2 separate regions of the Homo sapiens genome follow, and region 2 is linked to region 1. The links come from fine-mapping of genetic effects on gene expression. A gene starts in region 1. The other region holds a variant in brackets. All regions are shown on one strand. Distances are between the middles of the regions.

Region 1 (5,361 bases):
TGGTGGCATGCGCCTGTAATCCCAGCTCCTGGGGAGGCTGAGGCAGGAATCGCGTGGACCCAGGAGGCGGAGGTTGCAGTGAGCCAAGATTGAGACATTGCACTCCAGCCTGTGTGACAGAGTAAGATTCCATCTCAAAACAAACAAACAAACTGGTAAGATGGAGGGGGAAAAGGGAGGATAGGAAAAAAGGAAGGGGGGAAGAGAGGAGGAGGGCAGGGAGGAGGAGAGAAAAGGGCAGAAAGGAGAGAAGGAGGGAGAAAGAGAGAAGGAGGAAGTGGGGTAAGAGAAGAGAGAATCAGAGCACAAGAAAGGTGGAGGGGAAGTTTAGAGAAGAAAAAGGAGGAGGAGGGGTAAGAAGAGAGGAAGGAGGAGGGAAAGGAGGAGAGGAGGGGAGGAGGGACAGGGAACACTCAGCTGACATTTATGAATGAATGAATCTCAATTCCAAGTAAGCATGACAGCTCCAGTCCTCAGTTTCTTTCTTCCTTCTTTCTTTGTTTCTTTCTTTTCTTTCTTTCTTTCTCTCTTCTATTTTTTTTTTTTTAAGACAGGGTCTTGCTTTGTCACCCAGGCTGGAGTATAGTGACGCGATCTCGGCTCACTGGATCCTCTGCCTTCCGGGTTCAAGTGATTCTGCTCCCTCAGCCTCCGGAGTAGCTGGGATTACAGGTGTGCTCCACCATGCCTGACTAATTTTTGTATTTTTAGTAGAGACGGGGTTTCGTCATGTTGGTCAGGCTGGTTTCGAACTTCTGGCCTCAAGTGATCCACCCAACTCGGCCTCCCAAAATGCTGGGATTACAGGCGTGAGTCACCACGCCCAGCCTGCCCTCAGTTTCTTTACCTGTCAAATGGGGTGATCACAGCGGTGCTACCTGGCTAGGTAAGAGTGCAACTGCAGTTACTGGTCATTGCTGACTCTTCCAGGCCCAGAAAGCAGCAGGCCAGTGGCTGGCTCTGGGCCTGTCCTCCGGATCTTCCTCGTGATCCCTCATTCCAGCCACCCTGCTGCCCGCAGGGACCAATGGCAGCGTAGGGGGTGAGTGCCTGCCCAGCCCTGTCCTCCAAATGCATTGGAATCAGGCCCGGGCCGCCTCCTAAGGAGAACGCTGGAAAGGTCGGCCAAGGAGAGCAGAAAACAAGCAGTGGTGGAGTCGGCAGTGGGGCAGAGGAGGGGGAGCTGGAAGGGAAGGACCCCAAAGCAGAAGCCCGCACAGTAGGCACAGCGCACCCAAGAAGGGTCCAGGAGTCTGCAGAAACAGAAAGGTCCCCGGCCTCAGCCTCCTAGTCCCTGCCTGCCTCCTGCCTGAGCTTCTGGGAGACTGAAGGCACGGCTTGCAGCTTCAGGTCAGCCAGAGAATGGGGTTGTGCGTGCCCCCAGGCCAGCGCTGGCAGCGCCTGGGGGAGCATCTAGGACCCCGGGGTGCAAGTAAAGGGCCTGTAGGTGCTTCTAGGAAGGATGGGGACCTGGCGTGTGGATTTTGTCCTCCCTGGGATCCTGGGGTGTGACGGTGAGACTTAACCGACAAGGCTTCGGGACATGGATTAAGAATTAGCTGTGTCCTTGAATCACACGTGTTAAGACCGCGGCGGTGTTTACAGTTAGAGACTTCTGAGGCCCCAATGGTGTGAGTTGAGCACTCCCCCGGGCCCTGGAACGTGTTTTTAAGACCGAAAGAGGCTTTGGGGCTTGGATTTAGGACAAGCTGGAGCAAGAATACAGCCCGCGCGGGCCGTGGGTGTGGACTGGGATATTTTTGGTCCCCCGGGGTAGAGATCCTGCACGCCAACTAGGGCTCGGGTCCTGATATCTTGCGAGCCACGCCCCAAGGCTGCAGGACACGTGTGTTTCCTAAAAGGAGAGGGGGTGGGGCAAGGCTTGGTTGTCATGGAGACAGCGGACGACCCTGGCGGGCCGTTCTAGCACCCATGTCTCTTTGGCCGTCGCCTCTCCGGTCCGGTTGCCTCTCTATGGTCGTGGCTTCTGGAAGACGGCCGGCCTCGGCTCTGCGGGCTGAGGGGCTTCGAAGTAGACAGGAGGGAAGAGGGGCGGGGCCTAGGTCCTAGGGGGGCCGGAGTGAAACCCAGGAGGTGGCGACCGAGCCAAAGCCTGAGGGCGGGGCCCGTGGCCAGGATAGAACCTGAGCCTGGGAACTTGGGCTAGGCCCGGAACTGGGGTGGGGCTTGAACGGATTGGGGAGGGCTCTAGTTTCGGGAGGGTGGGGCGTGTGCTTATTGCGGGGGGGTGGGGAGGCATATGTCTAACCTAGGGGGTGGGGCCTGGCTGAGAGGGGCGGGACTCGGGGAGAGGGCTTGTACCTGTGGGCTGGGCTAGAAGCATAACCTAAGGGCGGGGCCCAGTGAGTGGTGAAAAGGCCACGGGGTAGAGGCAGGACCAGGAGGAAAGGGGACAGGACGTGAAGGGTAATTCGGGGATCGAGGATAGAGGCTAGATGAAGGCATGTGGCGAGGCCTGACAGTGACCGACAAGGTGGACATGCTGGCTCTGGGGGCGGGGACTGTTGTAAGATTGGCAGGGAAGGATGGGCTCAAAAATATGGAATAGAGCGGACCCAGGGTCCGGGGGCGGAGCCTGGCCAGGACCTGGCCAATCCCAGGCCTGGGGCCCTGGTCTGGTTCCTAGTTAGCGGGCGGGTGTAAAAGCCTGGAAAGGGGCGATGCCTGGCCTGAGGAGTTGACCAATCCCAGGCCTGGGGGCGGAGTCTGACTCGGAGCGCGTTCCCGGACTCGCGGGGGGCGCAGAGCCGAGGCCTGGGGGCGCGGCTCGCTGTAGAGGCGGGGGCGGTCGTGGGGCGGAGCGGGTCGTGGGGCGGGGCTGGAGCGGCCCGCGGCCTCAGCTCTCTCTGCTTCCCCAGGATGCGGGCTCCGGGTGCGGGCGCGGCCTCGGTGGTCTCGCTGGCGCTGTTGTGGCTGCTGGGGCTGCCGTGGACCTGGAGCGCGGCAGCGGCGCTCGGCGTGTACGTGGGCAGCGGCGGCTGGCGCTTCCTGCGCATCGTCTGCAAGACCGCGAGGCGAGACCTCTTGTGAGTGTTGCCGGGATCCGTCCAGGGCTGGGGGCGGGGCTGAGGGCTCTGGGGGCGCACGGTGCAGGGCTGGGTTGCGGGGACGGCTTGGAGGGTCCGGAGAGCTGAGGGTGCTTTGTAGGTTGGGGGCGGGGCTGGGCCGAGGGCTGGGCGGGGGCGGGGCCTGAGAGGGTGACCAGTTGGGGGTCTCTGAGGGGGCTACAGGGGACACTTTAAGGATTTCTCGAGGAAGATGAGTAGCCTCTAAGGTGCTTCGGGCGTTGCAGGCTGCTTAGGAGATGATCTCAGGGGATTTGGGGGGCAATTTGGGGGTCTTTGGGCAACTGGTGGAAATTCCAGGGAGCTGGGGCTGACTGGAAATCCGTGGCGGTGTGGGGGTCTTTTTGGAGCCGTGATAACTGTGAGAGACTTCAGGGGGCTCTCCAGTAGGTCACCGGGGCTCACAGGGACGACCCAATAGATAGTCTCTGGGGGGTTGCCAAGACACTTTGGGTCTATCTAGGGCTTTCTCTGAGGGATGAGCGAGCTGCTCTATAAAGGACTTCCCGGGTTTCTGAAGGTGTGAGTTTCCTCGGGATCGTTTACAGCTGGGGCACTGTTTGAGATTTTGGGGTCTGTGTGGGACTTTGGGTTTGGGAGTTGTTCGGAGTGTGTCGGGAGGCTGCTGTGTATTCCAGGACTTGTTTGGGGGGTCTCTTCTGGAGACTGGGACACTGGATTCATGCTAGGGGGGCAGATTCTGGTGTCCTGTGCAAGGATCCTTGGAGGGTTTTTGCGGTGTCTCTGAGGGACTTGCTCAAACGAGCCGTTGGGGGTCCTTCTGGGATGAAACAGGCATTGCTGGGGGCTTCTATCAGAGCAGACCTCAGGAACAGCACCACGTGGGAGCAGGTGAGCGCCGGCTAGCGGGGCAGGGCTCAACACCTTCACAGCTCCTTGTAAGATGGAGTAGCAAGAGGGACTGAACCCATTGTAAGGAGGGCACAGAGGGTGTGGAGATGGGAAAGATCCCACCGTAAGTTGACTGGTTCTGAACTTTCTAAAACTCACCCCTTCTGCATGCCATGGCCCCCTGCCCCCGGCTCCTTGGTTGTTCTGATGTGGAAATCTGACTGTGCCCTCTGCTCAGACACCTTCCATGGCCAGCCCATCCTTGGCAGAAGGAAGACTCAGCCCCTAGCTGGGCACTCAAGGTCCTACCATCTGTTCCCTGCCCACCTGCCACTCCCCCCATCCATATGTTCACCTGGTCTTCAGAAAGACTTGCAGTGTCAAGCTCAAGCTGCCCAGAACATACTGGACCCCTTTTAGCCAGGGCAGGCTCTCCCTCTGGGAACCTTTGCTGAATTTTCCTGCTCAGCACCCTCCCATAGCTCCTTGTTGCCCTTAGAATTGACGCCATACTGGCCGGGAGCGGTGGCTCACGCCTGTAATCCCAGCACTTTGGGAGGCCGAGGCAGGCAGATCACGAGGTCAGGAGATCAAAACCATCCTGGCTAACACGGTGAAACCCCGTTTCTAATAAAAATACAAAAAAATTAGCCAGGCGTGGTGGTGGACGCCTGTAGTCCCAGCTACTCGGGAGGCTGAGGCAGGAGAATGGTGTGAACCCCGGAGGCGGAGCTTGCAGTGAGCGGAGATCATGCCACTGCAGTCCAGCTTGGGCGACAGAGTGAGACTCCGTCTCAAAAAAAAAAAAAAAAATAGAATTAGAATTGAGGCCATACTCCTGAGCATTGCGCACGAGGTCCCTGACCATGTCCCAGCCTCCGCTTACTTCCCTTTTGTCGCCTAGCTGCACTTACCTTTTGTCTATTGCTCATTTGTTTGTTTGTTTGAGGCAGAGTCTCACTCCGTCGCCCAGGCTGGAGTGCAGTGGTGCGATCTTGGCTCACTGCAACCTCTGCCTCCCAGGTTCAAGTGATTCTCCTGCGTCAGCCTCCCAAGTAGCTGGGACTACAGGCACGTGCCACCATGCCCAGCTAATTTTTGTAATTTTAGTAGAGATGGGGTTTCACCGTATTAACCAGGCTGGTCTCAAACTCCTGACATCACGTAGTCCGCCTGCCTTGGCCTCCTAAAGTGCTGGGATTACAGGCATGAGCCACCATGCCTGGCTCCCTTTTTTTTGAGACAGGGTGTCTTCTCTGTTGCCCAGGGTGGACCAGCCTCCATCTCCTGGGCTCAAGCAATCCTCCCACCTCAGCCTCCTGACTAGCTGGGACTACAAACGCCTGCCTCCGCTCCTGGATAGTTAATAGAATGTTTTTTATAGAGATGAGGTCTCGCTATATTGCCCAGTCTGGTCTGGAAC
Region 2 (5,361 bases), 35 kb after region 1:
TTTGTAGAGATGGGGTCTGTATTAGTCCATTCTCATGCTGCTAATAAAGACATATCCGAGACTGGGTAATTTATAAAGGAAAGAGGTTTAATGGAACTCACAGTTCCACATGGCTGGGATGGCCTCACCATCATGGCAGAAGACGAAGGAAAAGCAAAGGGACTTTTTAATGGTGGAGGGCAAGAGAGTGTGTGCAAGGGAACTCCCCTTTAAAAACCACCAAATAAAGCCATCAAATCTCGTGAGACCCCTTCACTATCATGAGAACAGCACGGGAAAGACCCACCCCCATGATTCAACTACCTCCCACCGGGTCCCTCCCACAACACGTGGGAAGTATGGGAGCTACAATTCAAGATGAGATTTGGGTGGGGACACAGCCAAAATATATCAGGGTCTCACTGTGTTGCCCAGGCTGGTCTCGCAGTCCTGGGCTCAGGCAAACTTTTTCTTAAAGGACCAGATAGTTAATATTTTCGGCTTTGCAGGCCATACAGCCTCGATTGCTATTCAACACTGCTATTCTTGTGCAAAAGCAGCCATAGACAATGTGCAAATGAATGAGCATGGCTGTGTGCCAATAAAACTTTATTTCTAAATTTTTATTTATTTTTTGAGACAAGATCTTGCTGTTGTCCAGGCTGGAATGCAATAATGCAATCATAGTTTACTGCAGTCTTCTCCTCCTGGGCTCAAGTGATTCTCCCACCTCAGCCTCCCAAGTAGCCGGAACTACACGCACGTGCCATGACACCCAGCTAATTTAAAAAAAAAAAAAAATTGTTGGCCGGGTGCGGTGGCTCACGCCTGTAATCCCAGCATTTTGAGAGGCCGAGGCGGGCAGATCACTTGAGGTCAGGAGTTCGAGACCAGCCTGGCCAACATAGTGAAACCCTGTCTCTACCAAAATTTTAAAAATTAGCCACGTGTGGTGGTGCACGCCTATAATCCCAGCTACTTGGGAGGCTGAGGCAGGAGAATCACTTGAATCCAGGAGGTGGAGGTTGCAGTGAGCCGAGATCACACCACTGCACTCCAGCCTGGGTGACAAAGCAAGACTATGTCTCAAAAAAAAAAAAAAAAAAAAAAAAAAGGGTTTTTGCAGAGACAGAGTCTCACTATGTTGCCCAGGCTGGTCTTAAACTCCTGGGCTCAAGCGACCCTCCTGCCTTGGCGTCCCAAAGTACTGAGATTATAGGCATGAGCCATTATTGTGCCCGGCCCCAGTAAAACTTTATTTACAAAAACAGGTGGAGGGCCAAATTTGGCCCACAGGATGTAAGTTGCTAAACTCTTATTCACTGTGTAACAGACACAGCCCTGCCTGTCATGTGGGGAATGGACACATGACCAGGCAGGGTGTACATTTTCTTGCCCTGGTGAGGAGTGGTTAGGGAGGCCTCACTGGAGGAGGGGGCATGAAGCCAGGATCTGACAGACAAGGGGGAATCAGGCAGGCAAAATGGGGAAGAACATTCCTGCCCAGGGGACAGCCTGTGGGAAGGTCCAGAGGTGCAGGAGAGGATATTGAGTTGAGGCCTCCCAGAAGCCACCTGCTCAGCCCTTATCTGCCCCCCATCCCCACTATAGGCACCTTCAAGATCCAGAAGACGAGGCTGCAGCGAGAGGGCTTTGACCCACGCCAGACCTCAGACCGGCTCTTCTTCCTGGACCTGAAGCAGGGCCACTACCTGCCCTTAAATGAGGCAGTCTACACTCGCATCTGCTCGGGCGCCTTCGCCCTCTGAAGCTGTTCCTCTACTGGCCACAAACTCTGGGCCTGGTGGGAGAGGCCAGCTTGAGCCAGACAGCGCTGCCCAGGGGTGGCCGCCTAGTACACACCCACCTGGCCGAGCTGTACCTGGCACGGCCCATCCTGGACTGAGAAACTGGAACCTCAGAGGAACCCGTGCCTCTCTGCTGCCTTGGTGCCCCTGTGTCTGCCTCCTCTCCCTGCTTTTCAGCCTCTGTCTCCTTCCATCCCTGTCCCTGTCTGGCCTTAACTCTTCCCTCTTTTTCTTTTCTTTCTTTCTTTCTTTTTTTTTTAAGATAGAGTCTCACTCTGCTGCCCGGGCTAGAGTGCAGTGGTGGGATCTCGGCTCACTGCAACCTCTGCCTCCTGGGGTTCAAGTGATCCTCCCACCTCAGCCTCCTGAGTAGCTGGGATTACAGGCACCCGCCACCACGTCCAGCTAATTTTTATATTTTTAGTAGAGACGGGGTTTCACCATGTTGGTCAGG[T/C]TGGTCTTGAACTCCTGACCTCAGGTGATCCGCTGGCCTCGGCCTCCCAGAGTGCTGGGATTATAGGCGTGAGCCTCTGGCCCGGCCTTTCCTTTTTCCTCTCCTCTCCTGCCGAGAGTGGAACACGCGTGTCCTGGGAGCTGCATCTTGTGTAGGGTCCAGCTGCTTTTGGGGACTGCAGGAATCATCTCCCCTGGGCCCTGGACTCGGACTGGGGCCTCCCCACCTCCCTCTCGGCTGTGCCTTACGGAGCCCCGATCCAGGCCTCCTGTGGCTGTTGGGTTCCAGATGCTGCAGCTCCATGTGACTTCCAAGCAGGCCCTCCGCCCTCCCTGCTGAATGGAGGAGCCGGGGGTCCCCCAGGCCAACTGGAAAATCTCCCAGGCTAGGCCAATTGCCTTTTGCACTTCCCCGTTCCTGTCACATTTCCCCAGCCCCACCTTCCCCTCCTGATGCCCTGAAAGCTTCCGGAATTGACTGTGACCACTTGGATGTCACCACTGTCAGCCCCTGCCTTGATGTCCCCATTTAGCCATCTCCATGGAGCTCCTGCTGGAGGGCCCTGAACCCTGCACTGCGTGGCTGCCCAGCCAGCTGCCTCCTGTCCTGGGAGGAGGCCTCCTGGGTGTCCTCATCTGGTGTGTCTACTGGAGGGTCCCACAGGAGAGGCAGCAGAGGGGTCAGGGGAGGTCTCCTGCCGGGGGTTGGCCTCTCAAGCCTCAGGGGTTCTAGCCTGTTGAATATACCCCACCTGGTGGTGGCCCCTCCGATGTCCCCACTGATGGCTCTGACACCGTGTTGGTGGCGATGTCCCAGACAATCCCACCAGGACGGCCCAGACATCCCTACTGGCTTCGCTGGTGGCTCATCTCGAACATCCACGCCAGCCTTTCTGGGGCCGGCCACCCAGGCCGCCTGTCCGTCTGTCCTCCCTCCAGCAGCACCCCCTGGCCCCTGGAGTGGTGGGGCCATGGCAAGAGACACCGTGGCGTCTCATGTGAACTTTCCTGGGCACTGTGGTTTTATTTCCTAATTGATTTAAGAAATAAACCTGAAGACCGTCTGGTGCCTGCTGGGAGCCCATTCATTGAGTGTCCCTATGTGGCACAGAACCCTTGCTGAGTTTCAGAAGGCAGGACTCGGCCAGCCGGGCATAGTGGCTCATGCCTGTAATCCCAGCACTTTGGGAGGCTGAGGTGGGTGAATCACTTGAGCCCAGGAGTTCGAGACCAGCCTGGCCAACATGGTGAAACCCTGTCTCTACTAAAAATACAAACAAAATAATTAGCTGGGCATGGTGGCTCACACCTTTAATTCCAGCTACTCGGGAGGCTCAGGCAGGAGAATTGCTGGAACCTAGGAGGCAGAGGTTGCAGTGCACTCCAGCCTGGGTGGCAGAGCGAGACTCTGGTTCAAAATAGAAAGAAAGAGAGAAAGGGGGAGGGAGGGAGGGAAAGAGCGAGAGAGGAGAGGAGAGGGAGGGAGGGAGGGAATACAAAAAGTAGCCAGGCATGGTGGTGCGCGCACCTGTAATCCCAGCTACCCCAGAGGCTGGGGCAGGAGAATTGCTTGCGCCGGGAGGTGGAGGTTGCAGTGAGCCGAGATGGTGCCACTGCACTCCATCCTGGGTGACAGAGCGAGACTTTGTCTCAAAAAAAAAAAAAAAAGAAAAGAAAAAGAAGGGACCCTGTACCATGTGGCCCCATCTGCAAGACCAAAGGGACCTTGGGGCAGGGGCACTCGGGTTGGCCCTCTCGCTGGCCTGCCGAGGGGGAGGCACCTCCCTGCAGTGTCTGGGCCTCACAGGCCCTCGTTGACCTTGTGGTTGCAGGGGAGGGATGGCCAGCCTGCCTGTGGGTTCCTGCAGGTGTTGCAGGATGGCTCAGATCACGGTATGTCCTGGCACCTGTGGCTGCCCTGGCAGTGTCCTCTTCCATGTACAGGCCGGCTGGTGTGAGAGCTCTGGGTGAAAGTCGCTAGGCCTGCTGGGGTGGCCGTCTGAGCTGGGATTCGAACCCAGGACTCCAAGCTCAGGAGTCTATACAGTATTCCTCCCAATCGCTGGGGGATATGTTCCAAGACCCCAAATGGATGCCTGAAACTGACCATAATACTGAGCCCTAAATATGTTTTGTTTCTTTTCTTTCTTCCTTTCTTTCCTTTCCTTCTTTTTCTTTCCCTTCCTCCCTCCCTCCCTCCCTTCCTTTCCTTCATCCTTTCCTCCCTTTCTAATTTTAATTTAATTTAATTATTTATTTATTTTTGAGATGGAGTCCTGCTGTCTCCCAGGCTGGAGTGCAGTGGCACGATCTCGGCTCACTGCAAGCTCTGCCTCCCAGGTTCACGCCATTTTCCTGCCTCAGCCTCCCGAGTAGCTGGGACTACAGGTGCCTGCCACCACGCCCGGCTAATTTTTTTGTATTTTTAGTAGAGATGGGGTTTCACCGTGTTAGCCAGGATGGTCTCAATCTCCTGACCTCATGATCCGCCCTCCTCGGCCTCCCAAAGTGCTGGGATTACAGGCGTGAGCCACCGCACGTGGCCTAATTTATTTATTTTTAAGACAAAGTCTTATTCTGTTGCCCAGGCCAGAGTACAGTGGCATGATCATAGCTCACTGCAGCCTTGACCTCCCACACACAAGCAATCCTCCATCAGCCTCCTGCGTGGCTGAGACTACAGATATGCACCATCACGCCCAGCTAATTTTTTGATTTGTTTGCAGAGATGAGGTCCCACTGTATTGCCCAGGCTGGTCTTGAACTCCTGGGCTGAAGCCATCCTCCTGCCTTGGCCTCCCAAAGTGCTGGGATTACAGGTGTGAGTCACCGTGCCCAGTTTATACTGGTTTTTCAATCTCATAACCAGGAGGCTACTAAGTGACAAATGAGTGGGCATGGGGGGAGTGGTGTCTCCAGCATGGATCTGCTGGACAAAGGGGTGATTCATGACCCTGGGCGGGACAGAGAGGGATGGAGCAAGGCAGTCCGAGATTTCATCATGCTCCTCAGAACAGCACGCAATTTGAAACTTATGAATTGCTTATTTCTGGAATTCTCCATTTAATATGTTTGAACTGTGGAAACCTCAGAAAGAGAAACTTTGAATAAGCAGGGACTA

What was found. PIP is the estimated chance that this variant, and not a neighbour inherited with it, causes the effect.
Region 2: its variant is the best candidate, but not a certain one, in a credible set for the expression of SLC27A1 in whole blood (TOPMed, PIP 0.81).

What each region holds. Positions count from the first base shown.
Region 1 is chr19:17,467,661-17,473,021 of GRCh38, forward strand. It overlaps SLC27A1 (solute carrier family 27 member 1), which reads left to right and starts at 2,864. Exons shown (of 12, transcript NM_198580.3): 1 at 2,864-3,047. The coding sequence starts at 2,881. RefSeq lists enhancers at 1,929-2,058, 3,480-3,981 and a silencer at 2,809-2,938.
Region 2 is chr19:17,502,865-17,508,225 of GRCh38, forward strand. SLC27A1 (solute carrier family 27 member 1) reads left to right here. Exons shown (of 12, transcript NM_198580.3): 12 at 1,591-3,304. The coding sequence ends at 1,748. All of the region lies in intron 1 of PGLS-DT (PGLS divergent transcript), which reads right to left. Among named protein-coding and RNA genes, the nearest start is that of PGLS, 6.1 kb to the right of the region's middle. RefSeq lists an enhancer at 4,626-5,361. The variant T/C (reference allele first, on the strand shown) is at 2,242.